Regions from separate parts of the Homo sapiens genome. Here region 2 is linked to region 1. A link means that fine-mapping ties the variant in region 1 to the expression of a gene that starts in the linked region. Tissue or cell type: whole blood. Region 1 holds a variant in brackets; the other region holds the start of a gene. All regions are shown on one strand. Distances are between the middles of the regions.

Region 1 (6,652 bases):
TAGGACCTCAAACTCTGGGGGTCTCGCCATCCCTGTGGGGTGCAGCCATTGCTGGGAAGGGGTTCAGGGTCCGTAGACTTGGGAACAGGCTGGGGGTGGAGGCCGCTTGGCCCACCACGAACCAAGCCAGCACGTTTCCAGGTCTGCCGTCCTCCCCACAGCAGAGAGGAAACCTCGGCCCGGGGCCAGGCGTCCGACCAGCCACCTCCAAACCAGCCCCACCCAAGAGGCCCAGAGTCCCCCATCCACACGCATGCCTGCGCCAGCTCCCGTCCCTCCTGCTCCAGGCGCTTCAGAGAAGCCCAGACAACCCCTTGGCCCCCTGGCCTGCACACTGGAGCAGGCGAGGCCCACGGGGTCAGCCACCTGACACAAGGGGAAGCCCTGGGGGGCGCCACACTTCGGGCTCTGGAAGCTGAGACCTCAGGCCTGCCAGGGTCAGTCCCAGGCTGTGCTGGTTTCCAGGGCTGGGCAGAGGGACGGCCACGCATGCCCGTCCCTGGGGATCAGCAGATGTGGGGAGCAGGCATCCAACGCCGCCCTAGCCACTGTCTCCTGGGCCTGGCACACCCATGCCCAGTGGGAATCGCTGGACCTGCTTTTCCTGGGCGGGCCTGCCCTGGGCTCCTGCGGGTTGGTGGCGGGGCCACCAGAAGACTGCGCTCAGGGCCCGGGCTCCCAGCACAAGACCCCAGAGCGAGGCAGGCCCCAGAACCAATTTCCTGGGTGGACAGGGGGAAGCCCGTGAACAGTGCACGCTGGCCTCTGGAACCACCGCTGCTGACCAGCCCCGGACCACTGGGGCTGGGGGGGTGAGGCCGCCAACTGCACTGTGTCCACCCAGTCCTCCAGGATCGATGACCAGCGCTGCCCGCCACCTGACGTACTGCCCCGGGGCCCTACCATGCCGGACGAGGACTTCTTCAGCCTCATTCAGAGGGTGCAGGCTAAGCGCATGGACGAGCAGCGGGTGGACCTCGCCGGGGGCCCGGAGCAGGGGGCAGGCGGCCCGCCCGAGCCCCAGCAGCAGTGCCAGCCTGGTGCGAGCTAAGGCCCTGTGCCCACCGCCAGGCCCACCCTGCCCCCACTCCTGGACGCCGGTCTCACAGTCACAGCCACGTCCTCCCGAGGCCATTGCCGAGGACAGGCACTGGGCATGCAGCCCCACGGCCTCCCCGACCCAGGGCGACAGGCTCAGGCCAAGCTGCCCGTGGTGGGAGGGCGTGCTTCCATCCCGGGCTGGCCCCCATGGCCCTCAGCTTCCTCCCTTCTGCCCCTGCCGCAGGCCGGACGGGGCCTTCGGCATGTCGGCCCCGACCTGGTGCTGTCAGACTCCCGCATCCTCTCCCCCAAGCCCTTCCCGTTCTGCCCTGCCCTGCCAAATGTGAAACCCTGCTGTCTCCCCCACCCTCCCCAAAGGTGTCTCTGAGCCGCCTCTTGGGGCCACCAAGGACAGGGCCATGTTCTGTCCCCCCAGAGCTGGTCTTGGGATGGCCGTGTGACAGGCATGCTCCACCCCTCCAGCTTCGTCCTGGGGCAGGGCTCCCTCCAAGCCTGTCTCCCCACTCCCCGGCCAGAGGTCAGCAACCACAGAAGGCCCCCCAGACCACGCATGGCAGACCAGGCTGCAGTGGCAGCCCTGAGGTGCCCCCCGCCGAGTCCCAGGGCCCTGCAGGGGCCTCGACAGGAGCCGGGCCTATCTCTAAAGCAGAGGGAATGGCTGGGCATGAACTTCGACATTCCAAAACCCCAAGCCAGGAAAAAGGGCAGGGCCTGGTCCTAGGGATGCTTACTGGCAGCAAGAGCAGTGCCCAGTCAGGGTGGGAGGTAGCACCAGGCTCTGTGACCCTCACCCAAGTGGGGGGGTGGTCAGTGGAAGCTGGGGAGGCTTCACTCAGCTCAACCCTGCAGACCCCCCATATGAGAACCCCCCTCCTCCCACCAGCTGGGGGAGATGACATCACTGCTCTCTCCATGGGGAGGGGGCTCACAGGGCACCAAGTTCGGGATCCTAGGACTGGCAGGACCTGCTGGAGCCTGAGATGGGCCCCAGGGGCCTGAGGTTGCCTCCTCCTGTCCAGACCCAGCCTTGGCACCTCCCAAGACTGCCAAGGGCCCTACCATGGCCCCACAGCCCCCAGGGCTGGCAGTTCCATCTAGGAGGGTGCCTCTAGGCCCCACTCTCAGGCTAGGATGGAGAGGCAGATCTGGGCCTGGTGAGGTGACCTGCTTCTGGAGGGGCAGGGCCGCACCCGAGAGCAGGGACAGGTGCCCGAACACAGGGTCTCCAGGACGTAGCGCCCCCCCGCATACTTGAATGTATGTGCGTATTTATTGCTCACGTCTGTGCCATGTTGTCAATGGGTCCTTTCCAACCCAAGAGGTACATTTGTTTTTCTGTTTTTCCTGAAAAATAAAGTCGGCCAAGTGAGTGTGGTCCGTATGGGCTTAGTCCCGGGTGGGGGCCTAACCCGGTAAGAGGCTGCACTGTGCAAAGTGTCCACAGATACCCACTGTCTGGGCCCTCTGAGACCTCAGAGAGATGGAGTTCCCACTGCATTTAACCACGGGGGAGCTGGGGCACAGAGGGGTGAAGTGGCTGCCTGCTGTCACCACTGATTCCTGCACCCCTACCTCCTCACGCTCCCAGCCCCTAGGGAAACAGAGCATGCTCTGAGCTGACACTCACGTGGCCGGGACCAGCCCCCAGAAGCAGCAGCCCCCAGGTCAGCCCCACGACCCCCTGAGGACCCAGCCTGCTGCCGCCCACCCAGCACCCGGGGGAGGGAGGTCCTTTCCTGGAGTCTGATCCGGCTGGGCTCAGGGTCTGGACACTGAGCCACAGTGGAGGAGCCGACGGCAGATCTGCAGTCTTGGGGCTTGTCTGGGCGCTGCTTGTGGTGGGTGGCACCCCCACGGGGCCCCCGTCAGGGGACACACAGGTGCGCCGGGCAGTCCTGCTGCCCCTCGCCACAGCCCACCTGGCCATGTTGGCAGCCACAGCCTCTGTGCTGGTTGACTCCGTTGCCTCCTCCACCCCAGAAGGGGCCTTGGGAACCAGAATCAACGTGTACTCCAGGTCCAGGGTCCCAGCCAGCTTGCGTGTGGTGGTACACGCACACAGGGTCCAAGTAACCGTGCAGGGCCCAGGACCGCGCACAGCCAGGGAAGCGCAGCAGTGCCGCCCACGCTACTGGCTGGGACAGCCTCTGAAGGTGCGGCCGAGGAACCTGCTTGGAGAGACGCTGTGACGAGGGATGCCCAGGCCAGCAACCGTGCCCGGGAGGCAGGGATGTCCTGGGGCGGGGGGGTGTAGAGTGGCAGGAGATTAGGATGGCAAAGCCCCTTGCAGAAACCTGGCTGTGGGATTGGGGCTGCGGGGAGGGAAGGGCGGAGGGAGACAGGGTCCAGGGGGCCTCAGGCAGGAGCTGGCGGGATGCTTCTGGCACGCGGGGGGTAGCCATAGGTCTTCTCTAGGAACGTGCCAGCCTTGGGAAGGATTTCCCTCCAGGGCCAGCCTGGGCCCAGAGGTGCTGGCATCAGACAGAAAAGACATGGTAACGTCCACATCCCAACTACCAGCCGCCATCTCCCCATCCGTAAGAGGAGGGGTTGGCCCAAGCGGCTCTCCTTGCTCTAATTCTGCACTTCCAGGTCCAGACGGCTCCCTGGACCTCCCCACATGCTGGTCCAGGCCCTCTGGAGGCAGTGAGGCAGCCAAGCCAAGCCCAGCCCCACTGCACTTCCAAGCCCCCAAGAGACCCCCAGCCAGTGCCTCCATGGAGGAGCAGGCCTGGGTGCCGGTGGCTCAGCCGAGAAGAGGACAGTTTCCACAAATGGCACAGAAGGCTCTGGGTGGGAATAATAGAGGGTTGTTGGCTGAAAGAAGGACAGGGGGTAATCGAGGCAAAGCCCACGCCACAAGCACACTGGGAACGATGCCGCCGCGCCCCGGCCTCCCACGGGCCGGATGTGAGCTGGCAGTCCTGGCCGTGTCCCGCTGGGAGGGGCCGCACTGGGTCCCTGTCGTGCTCAGTCCTGCCTCCACCTCCCACCTCGCCCCATTCTCTTCCCTGCCGGAGTGTGGCGGGTGATGAATGCTGAAGGTTACGCTGCCCAGAACGCTTCTGCAAATAAACAGGCTGCTGTGTTTGCTCGCTTTCATAAACACGGGAACATCCTGCGCACAGACAAGGCTGGGAGACAAACCCCACACACCTCGGAGGGCCCTGGGGACGTCCAGAGCGCTGTCCACCGAGGGAAGGAGGCCCAGGTGGCTCCCCCGGGAGGGGTCTGGAGCTCCTAACACACGGCCACGCCATAGCTGCTCGTCCTGCCTGGGCCAGCAGGCAGCCTGGTTTGCTCACTGTTTCGCCGACGGCCGGCGGCCGAGGACCAG[G/C]GCTCAGGTCTGCACTGGCTCACGGAAGGGAGGCCGCCAGAGCTGGCCAGGGGGGCGGCAAGGGCCTTGCAGAGGAAGGCTGAGGCTCACAGGGGTGGTGACCTGCTCAAAGTCACGCAGCGACAGCCAGGAAGGGCTCTGACGCCACATCCAGCCCCCTTTCCACGCGACTGTGGCCTCTGTGGGCAAGAGCTGGGTGACTCTGTGTAGAAGGAACTGTGGTGAGGCGAGAGGTCCTGCGGCTCCTATGTCCCACCCAGCAGCACCAGGGATTCAGAGCAATCGTTCTAACTCCAGAAAAAGAAAGGCCACGAGGGCCACAGGCCCCAGCATCTGGAAGTAATGTCTGTTTATTGATAGAAAACAGGCCACGTCCAGAGAGGCCCAGGGCCAAAACCTCCTTCTGGAAGGCCGAAGTCCCACAGTGCCGGGGAGCGCAGGAGTCAGCTCGGCTCCGTCTTGCCAGGGCTGGGGGGACCCTCATCCTCACCCGCTTCCGGAGCTGCAGTGGATGTGGGGGCCCCTGCAGCCTCCAGAACCAGTTCCAGGGCCCCCTCGCCCGCCACACGGTGCACCTGCTCGCCTCTGGCCGTCAGGATCTCTTCGATATTTCTGGGGGGCAGGGAGGCAACATGGCTCTTCAGGGCCCCCCAGCCGCCCTGCACTTCAGTCCCCTCAGGGCGCCCCATGGCCAGGCCAGAGCTGCAAGCACCAGGCCCAGCACTCCTGTGGCATCAGGCCACACGGGCACTTCAGACGCTGGCCTGTGTGCCCTCACCAGCCCTGTGTCTCTGCCGGTATGCGCCGCCTCAGGAACCCAGTCTCCTGCTCCTGCCCCCTATGTGCCAGAGGGAAGAATCTGCAGCCCCGGGTCTGATGGGAGGACAGTCCCAGCTCCAAGGGCCAGGTACCACCAAGCACCTGGCATGCTGGTCTCAGACCTGCTGTCGCTGTTACTGTCCTGCCCAGGACCTCCCGGCCAGGCAAGGCCCGGACCAGGCTCCCGGCACCACCTCCACTGCTCTCCCAGCAGCCAGGGCCCAGGCCACACCTCCTGGTCCACACCCCAAGCCTTGCTGTGGGCCAGCCACCCCAAGATGGCAGAGGGCAAAAAAGTTCCACGCTAGAGAGGGACAAGGCTGCCAGTGATGGCAGAGGGCAGGCAGAGGCAGGGAGGCAGGGCCACAGGGCTGGCAAAATTTAACAAATAAAAACGCACCCCCTACTTGGGGCATACTTAAACTCAAAAGCTATCTGGGCTTTATAGGAAATTCTCATTTAACTGTGTGTCTTGTATTGATAAGGTGGCTGGATTTCCCAGGTGAGATCTATAAACCTCAACACTAGGGCAAGGTTCCCCCAGGGAGGCCAGGGTACTTCTGGGTGGCCTTCTGGCCCAGCCCTGGGGTACAGGCCTCACCTCTTCCCATTCAGGTCCGAGAACCAGCCCAGGTTGTCAGCGATGATATGGTGGTTCTGGCAGCCGGGGCAGGTCACAATGACCACGCCTTGGTGATAGGCCAGCTTGGAGATGCGCTTGGAGGACCTAGTCCCGCAGACCTGGCTGGGACAGGGTAGCTGGTGAGGCTGTGAGGGCCGCCACGCCCCTCCCGGGAAGACCCGCCCCTCTAGGGGTAGCTCCAGCCACCTCACCCTCTCCAGAGAAGGCCCCGCCCCCGAGGGATAGCTCCACCCACCCCCAACCTCGCCCTCTCCCGGGAAGGCCCCGCCCCAGGGACGGCTCCACCCCTCCTCATGGTCCGCCTCCGCTCCCTCCCAGAAGCCCCAAGGGGTGGCTCCACTCCTTCCTGTGACTTGACCACGCCGCCTCCCGGATCCCCGGCGGGCCGCTTCTCCCCGCAGGCCGTGTAGCGTCAGATACGGGTCTGTCCCCGGTTCCGTCCCGCCGCGCGCCTACCTTGCAGGTGTAGACGAGCTGGTAGTGCGCCGCCTCCACGCGCCCCAGAGCCGCCGCGGGCCCCGGCCCCTGCTCGGAGCTTGAGCGCCGCCAGCCCCAGGCCCAGGCCCGCCGCCTCCCCGCGACCTCTGGACGGGCCCCGCGGCCCCACAGCCGCCTCAGGCAGGGCGCCCGGGGCTGCACGCGACTCAGCAACCTCGGCGCGCCGCGCAGCGCAGTCCGCAGCATCCCGCTCGCCGGCTCCGTCCGCCCTGCCCCGGCCCCGCCCCGCCGCCATCTTGGAAGTGGGCGCCGGGCGGAAGCGGCGTTCTTGGGCTTCCGTCTTCCGGGTCGGG
Region 2 (6,583 bases), 51 kb after region 1:
AATTCTGCTGGCCGGATCCTCTTTCGAGAGGCCGAGGTTCTTGGTCTTCAGAAACTCTCTAAAAGAGAATGGATTTGCCTCTTCCAGATCTTCAAATCTGTCATCTGAAATAACAGACATCACAAATGCATAAAGTCTACTGAAGAGCGTTGAAAGGGAACCTTCCTGTTCACCTGTCTTTCCAGAGCATGGCCACATGTGAGATCGGGCAGCCACGCTTGTCATTCTACCATGACTCAGGCAGCACTAGGAAGTGTGAAGGTGGCTGAAGGTGGGCAGTGACACAGACGTGCGTCTGCATTTGCAATCTTCTCCTTCCACCCCTCGGCCCCTGCTCCCACACTGTGCTGCTCACTAAAGCTCCCCTGGGGAGCTTTAAAACGACCCAAGCCACTCCACTGCACACACCCAGCTCCCTGGTGTGAGGTCAACCTGTGCTAGGAGCTCTCAAAGCTCCTCAGGTGGCCAGGTGTGGTGGCTCACGCCTGTACCCCAGCACTGTGGGAGGTCAAGGCGGGCGGATCACGAGGTCAGGAGACTGAGACCATCCTGGCTAACACGGTGAAACCTCATCTCTACTAAAAATACAAAAAATTAGCCAGGCGTGGTGGTGAGCGCCTGTAGTCCCAGCTACTCGGGAGGCTGAGGCAGGAGAATGGCGTGAACCTGGGAGGTGGAGCTTGCAGTGAGCCGAGATCGTGCCACTGTACTCCAGCCTGGGCGACAGAGCGAGACTCTGTCTCAAAAAACAACAACAACAACCAGCTCCTCAGGTGCTGCAACGCTGGGGACCCAGTGCCCCCTGACCCTCTTCCCGACTTTCCTACCTAGGTAGCCTAAATAACGCCCACTTTTCCCTTCTCCCTCTTGCCACCGCCTTCCCACCCTCCGGGGACTTAAGCAGCCACACTCGACCCTCCCAGCTGTGAGCCCCATGTAAAGCTGGCTCCTGTGGCCCCAGCCCCCCAGGTGGGGCTTCCCCGCTCCCTGATGTCACCTCGCTGCTACTCTAGGATCAAGACTGAACCCTTGAAATCCCACCCCCACCTGCTCTTTTGGGCTCCAGCTACACCACATAGCCAGTCACATTGACAGTCCCACCAGACACGTGCCTGGCACTGTGTTGGATGGAGACAAGAAGAAAAGGTTGCTGAACTACTCTACCTCCAAAATGTGTCCCGTGGGCTCCTGACGGGCTCTGCTTAGAACATTTCCCCTTTCCATAGCCAAAATCTGCAAAGAAACAATGTCACCCACCATGCTGGCAGGAAGTCTTTATGACCTCACATTTGGTTTTTTTCTTTTGCACATGGAGTCTCCACTGCAGTGGTTCTCACAGTCTAGAGAACTTTTTTTTTTTTTTTGAGACGGAGTCTTGCTCTGTCGCCCAAGCTGGAGTGCAGTGGTGCGATCTCGGCTCCCTGCAAGCTCCGCCTCCTGGGTTCACGCCATTCTCCTGCCTCATCCTCCCGAGTAGCTGGGACTACAGGCACCTGCCACCACGCCCGGCTAATTTTTTTGTATTTTTTGTAGAGACGGGTTTTCACCCTGTTAGCCAGGATGGTCTCAATCTCCTGACCTCATGATCCGCCTGCCTCGGCCTCCCAAAGTGCTGGGATTACAGGCGTAAGCCACTGCGCCCGGTCAGCCGAGAAAACTTTAAAAAAAACACAAGCTCCCAGACTTGTGACCCTGGAGATGGCCTGACTTGCAGACTGGCCCTGGTGTCCGTGGTCTGAAAGCGGCTCCTCAGCAGATTTTGAAGCCCAGCCGGGGCAAGCGCGTCCTCTTGTCTTGTGACAACCCCCGAATGTCCTCAGATCCTGGCATAACCACACAAACACTCCTGCACACCCCGGGCACCCAGCAGCACTTCTGCTTGGGTAGAACGAGGACGAACCAGATCTGGCCACTGCCCGGCTGTGGAGGCAGATGGAATGCTCCAGCTCGGTTTCCAATCACTGCCCACTAGGTGAAGGCACCCCGACTCCAGCCCCACGAGGAAAGCGGGCGGGCTCCTGTGCTCCCCGGGCACTAACCATCCTGTACTGGAACTGTCTGTCTTGGGGGAGGTCTCCCCGCAACCAGACTGTGAGCTCCTAGCAGGGGACTCCGCCTTTGAATTCCGAGTGCCTGGCACGCAGTGAGCGCTCTGCACATTGATGGGTCAATGGACGAGCTCGTGCTGCAGCGGAGGTGCCACACGTGGCGCGGGAACTGGAAGCGTCCCCGGGGCCGGCGCCCTCGTCTCTCACCTGTGTCTCCCACGGAAGCCAGCACCGGGCTGGGCACATAGCACATAAAGGCCGGCCGAATGCCGAAGAAGGGGGAGTCCAGGTCCCTGCCATGGGGGCGCTCACAATTTAGCTGGGGGAGACAAGACCGGCGCTCATAGAACGCTGGAGCTGGAAGCAACGACAACAGCGACTTTACTGCGTGCCGGGGCGGCCGCCGCCCACCTGGACCGCTGGACTCGGCCCCTGCCCCGCTCACCGTCGGGAATGGCGAGGCTCCGGGCTCGGGACAGCGGGGTGGCGCCCGGGCGGCGCTGGTAGCCCGACATCGCCGCCGGCCCGGCGGGGCACGACCTGCCTAGCCCGGCAGCGGCGGCTCCATGGCCCCGGCTCCGCCCGTGCCGCGGCCCGCGTCGCCCGCCCCCGTCGCCCGCCCCCGTCGCCCGCCGCTCGGCCGCCCCCGCGCCTCCGAGCCTCTCGCCGCTGCTTCCGCTCCGAGCACCGAAAGCGCGTGCCTGAACGCCTTGGGCCGTCGGCGAGGGGGAGGGGAAGCCGTGGGCGGAAGCGGAAGTGACGACTGAAGCGGGGCGGAGACGCAAGATGGCGGCTGTGGTGCTGGCGGCGACGCGGTTGCTGCGGGGCTCGGGTTCTTGGGGCTGTTCGCGGCTGAGGTGAGCCAAAGGCGAACCAGGCTTCGGCCTGGGGCGGGGGCGGCTCGAGTCTTTCTGGACGCTCCGTCTTCGGTTTCTACAGGTGACATGGCGCCCGTGGGACGGGCTCGCACTTCGGGACACTGGTGTCCCCGAGGCGACGGGGGCCCTGCCTTGCTTTGCGCCTCGAGCCCGGGGACGCAGTCCCATCTGTCTCTCCTCTCCCCGGCTGCTGGGTCCTCTCCCCCCCTCACTTCCCGGGTCGACGGGCCTTCTCCGAGGCCATGCCTCATATTTGCCCCCGCGCTTCACCTACCGCGTGCTCCTTCAGGAGGCTGAGCCGGTGGGGGCCCAGCTCTGTTAGACCCGCAGGGTTCTGACACCAGGGTCCAGGCTCTCGGTTGCTGCGGTCTGTCCGTTGATCTCTGACGTTTAAGAACCCTTTCCGTACCCACCGCTCCTCCCACCCAAGTGACCGGGCCTGCCTTTCCCCACGCTGGAACTTTGTTCCGACAGCACAGGCGTCGCCCCTCCCCACACAACGAGCGCCGTTTCAGGGGTGCGGAGGTGCTGCCTCCAGGAGATGGATACAGGCTGGAGCGTAAACAAAATATCGGCAGTCGCGTAAATGCTTTGGAGTAAACAAGCAGCCTTTCATGATAGAAAATAGCAGGAAAGACTAGACTGGTGAGGGATAGTCCTCCATCAGGGTGACATTTAAGGGAAGAGCTGAAGAATGAAAGAAGGGGTAGGCATGGGCAAAGGGCAAGCCCTGGAACGGTGAAGAAGCTTTGGGGTTGATGAGTCAAATGTGTTCCAGGAATTGACAAGAATCAGTGTGACCAGGACCTATGGGAGTGTGGGGGTTCAAGAGATGAGTTTGGAGAGGGAGACAGAGGCCAAGTCACACCCCGCCTTCGGACCAGGTTAATAAGGGATATGGCTTTTATCCAAGACTTCGGTGGTGCTGTTGGAGGGCAGAGCTGTTAAGTGCTTTATGTGTACAAACTGCACTTAGAGTGAGTTACTGTTAATAAGCCCTGTTTTTACAGAGATAGCAACTAAGACCCAAAGGACGGAACCAGCTTGCTCCAGGTCCCGTGGCTGAGCCTTTGTTGTCAGCCTCTGCTTTGTCTTCCAAAGTCTGTAGAAATAAGTCCTGTAGAAAGGCAGATGCTCACTTTTAACCCAGACAAAACATAACTAACCGCACCTAACAGGTCATCACAGGTTTGTTGTCTCAAGCCTGTTGTAACTGGGCCGCTTTCTCTGTTTTAGGTTTGGACCTCCTGCGTACAGACGGTTTAGTAGTGGTGGTGCCTATCCCAACATCCCCCTCTCTTCTCCCTTACCTGGAGTACCCAAGCCTGTTTTTGCTACAGTTGATGGACAGGAAAAGTTTGAAACCAAAGTAACCACATTGGATAATGGGCTTCGCGTGGCATCTCAGAATAAGTTTGGACAGTTTTGTACAGTAGGAAGTAAGTACTGTTGTGTTGTCGTGGGTGGTCCCGCAGTTTTAACATGCACATGCTTTAGTTGACTGTTAGTTGTAATTAGCATGCCAATTATGAATTGTACCCTGAGTGGAAACAAAGTGTACGATTTCATAAATGTTGAGCTACACATATACCTGTGAAACCATCAGCACAATCACCCTCATGTAATTAAATCTGATTATCATGTCATATTGACATCTTAAAATGTTTCTCTTGATTAAATCTTATTTTGAATATCTGATGTAACCTGTCAATTTTCTTTTTACTACTAGTTCTTATCAATTCAGGATCGAGATATGAAGCGAAATACCTTAGTGGAATTGCTCACTTTTTGGAAAAATTGGCATTTTCGGTCAGTACCCAGTTTTGTAATTTTTTAGACTATACTTTTGAAGGATGTTTGAGATTTTTCTTGTCTATAATGGTTATTTTAATAAATTATCAAGTTGCTAAGTTAATGTTAATAAAAGACTTTTAAGTTAAAAGATAATTTTTGTATGTGTGTTAAAAGCAAAAGTAGATTTTAAAAAAAAATTGTGTTTCAGGGATAGCCTGGATTGCTTATTTAGGTTTCCTTATTTATTTTTACTAGTCTACTGCTCGATTTGACAGCAAAGATGAAATTCTGCTTACGTTGGAAAAGCATGGGGGTATCTGTGACTGCCAGACATCAAGGTACACCAGCTTTTGTGTACAAACTGACTTTGGGTCCTTGGGAACTGACGTTCTTGTCGTTGCTCAGATTCCCTCTGAGCCCCTCCCAGCGGGAGGTGTGGAGATTCACGGGGAGAAGGAGCCCTGTCCTGGATGGAGACTTGGGTGGATGGCGCTTACACAGAGAAGCACAGCCCCCAGGAGCTCAGTTGACCCCCGTCAGTTCCTCCAGGCTGTTGGCTGCATGCCAGGGATGTAGAGCAGGCCCTGTTCCCAGATAGAGCAGAGGGCCTTGCATACGTAATGGACCCCGTAGCCAAAGGCGGTAGGAGCCAGGAGGATGAGTGGCTGACTTGGTCTGGAGTTGGGAAAGGAATCATAGGAAATGCAGGGTTGGGCTGGTTCCAGAAGGAGTTTGCTAGACACACGGGGCACAAGGCATTCCAGACCAGGAGACAGCAGGGGCAAAAGGCACCGAGCCAGGGAGGTGCCGGCTGCTTGGTGGAGGGAGGGGGCAGTGTTGCCTCGAGCACAGTGCAGTGGTCTTTGCATGCCAGGTGTGGAGCTTGTTCAGAAAGCACTGGGCAATGTGAGATGGGTGAATATAGATCACAGATTTTTAAAATTGTTGATTTAAGTTTGAATGCTAAAAAAATTACACATAAAAGACACATTAAATGCTAAGAATTAAAGTTAGCTTGGAGGTAACATATTCATGTTCTAAAACAAGGCCTCTTAATACCCCCTGACTCCCAGCTGCCCCTGCCAGGTTCCTGCCTGGTGTGTTTGATTCTCCGACTCTTGCCTCGAATCTCACTCATCCCAGATGAACTCCTTTCTCTGGCCAGGTGGCTGGTGTCCTGACTCAGACCCAGCCCCCCTCGCCCTCAGCTCAGGCTTTTGTTCTTGCCATTCTCCCCATGTGGAGAGCCAAAGTCACTGAGAATGGCTCCTCTTCAGGGTGAAGGTCCAGCCAAGTCCCCTCTTCAGAGGCACTGGTGACTGCGTCCTGCCTCCCAAGCTCCCTCTTCTTCGTGGCTGTTGCGTCTGCTCTGCATGGTCTCCCTTGATCACACTTGATCTCAGAGCACCCCATGATTTCGTGCCTGTCCCATGGGCCAGCTCTGTGCACTTCTGACTGTGCAGTGCCTCATGCCGGGAACAGATGTTACAGTGAGACAAGCTCCATACGAGCCAGCCATTGCTGTCCCCCAAGCCAGCCAAGGCCGGGCATGTTTCCACACTCACCAGTGGGTTCGTTCAGTCAACAGGAGGCTGGGATGAAACACTTCACCTTTTGAGAGAGAGTATAGTTACAAAAATCTGTATCAGAAGTGGCTCCATTTTGACTCAAGCTGTGTGTAGCTGTGAGTCCTGCCTACCAAGCATTCACACTGTAAGACAGGAAAAGAGAAAGGGGAAAAGTGTCTGCTGTTCCCCGATGAAGGGTAGGAGGTGTCCCCTGGCACGCAAAGCCCAAGCGTCCCTGAAATGTCTGCTGGGCCCCAACAAAAGGTAGGTGCCCCTGGCATGCAAAGCCCAAGTG

The links. PIP is the estimated chance that this variant, and not a neighbour inherited with it, causes the effect.
Region 2: it holds the start of ENTR1, and the variant in region 1 is fine-mapped to the expression of ENTR1 in whole blood (TOPMed, PIP above 0.99).

Annotation. Positions count from the first base shown.
Region 1 is chr9:136,357,170-136,363,821 of GRCh38, forward strand. It overlaps GPSM1 (G protein signaling modulator 1), which reads left to right. Exons shown (of 14, transcript NM_001145638.3): 14 at 845-2,432. The coding sequence ends at 1,051. It overlaps DNLZ (DNL-type zinc finger), which reads right to left and starts at 6,575. Exons shown (of 3, transcript NM_001080849.3): 1 at 6,318-6,575; 2 at 5,820-5,959; 3 at 2,314-5,011. The coding sequence starts at 6,545. The coding sequence ends at 4,843. LOC124902309 (a long non-coding RNA gene) reads left to right here and starts at 6,200. Exons shown (of 2, transcript XR_007061863.1): 1 at 6,200-6,283. RefSeq lists silencers at 5,931-6,210, 6,311-6,652. The variant G/C (reference allele first, on the strand shown) is at 4,400.
Region 2 is chr9:136,407,835-136,414,417 of GRCh38, forward strand. ENTR1 (endosome associated trafficking regulator 1) reads right to left here and starts at 2,780. Exons shown (of 10, transcript NM_001039707.2): 1 at 2,494-2,780; 2 at 2,256-2,405; 3 at 1,165-1,233; 4 at 1-104. The coding sequence starts at 2,563. PMPCA (peptidase, mitochondrial processing subunit alpha) reads left to right here and starts at 2,824. Exons shown (of 13, transcript NM_015160.3): 1 at 2,824-2,905; 2 at 4,163-4,365; 3 at 4,656-4,735; 4 at 4,976-5,058. The coding sequence starts at 2,835. RefSeq lists enhancers at 1,883-2,042, 2,893-2,982, 3,013-3,062 and silencers at 2,403-2,452, 2,593-2,682.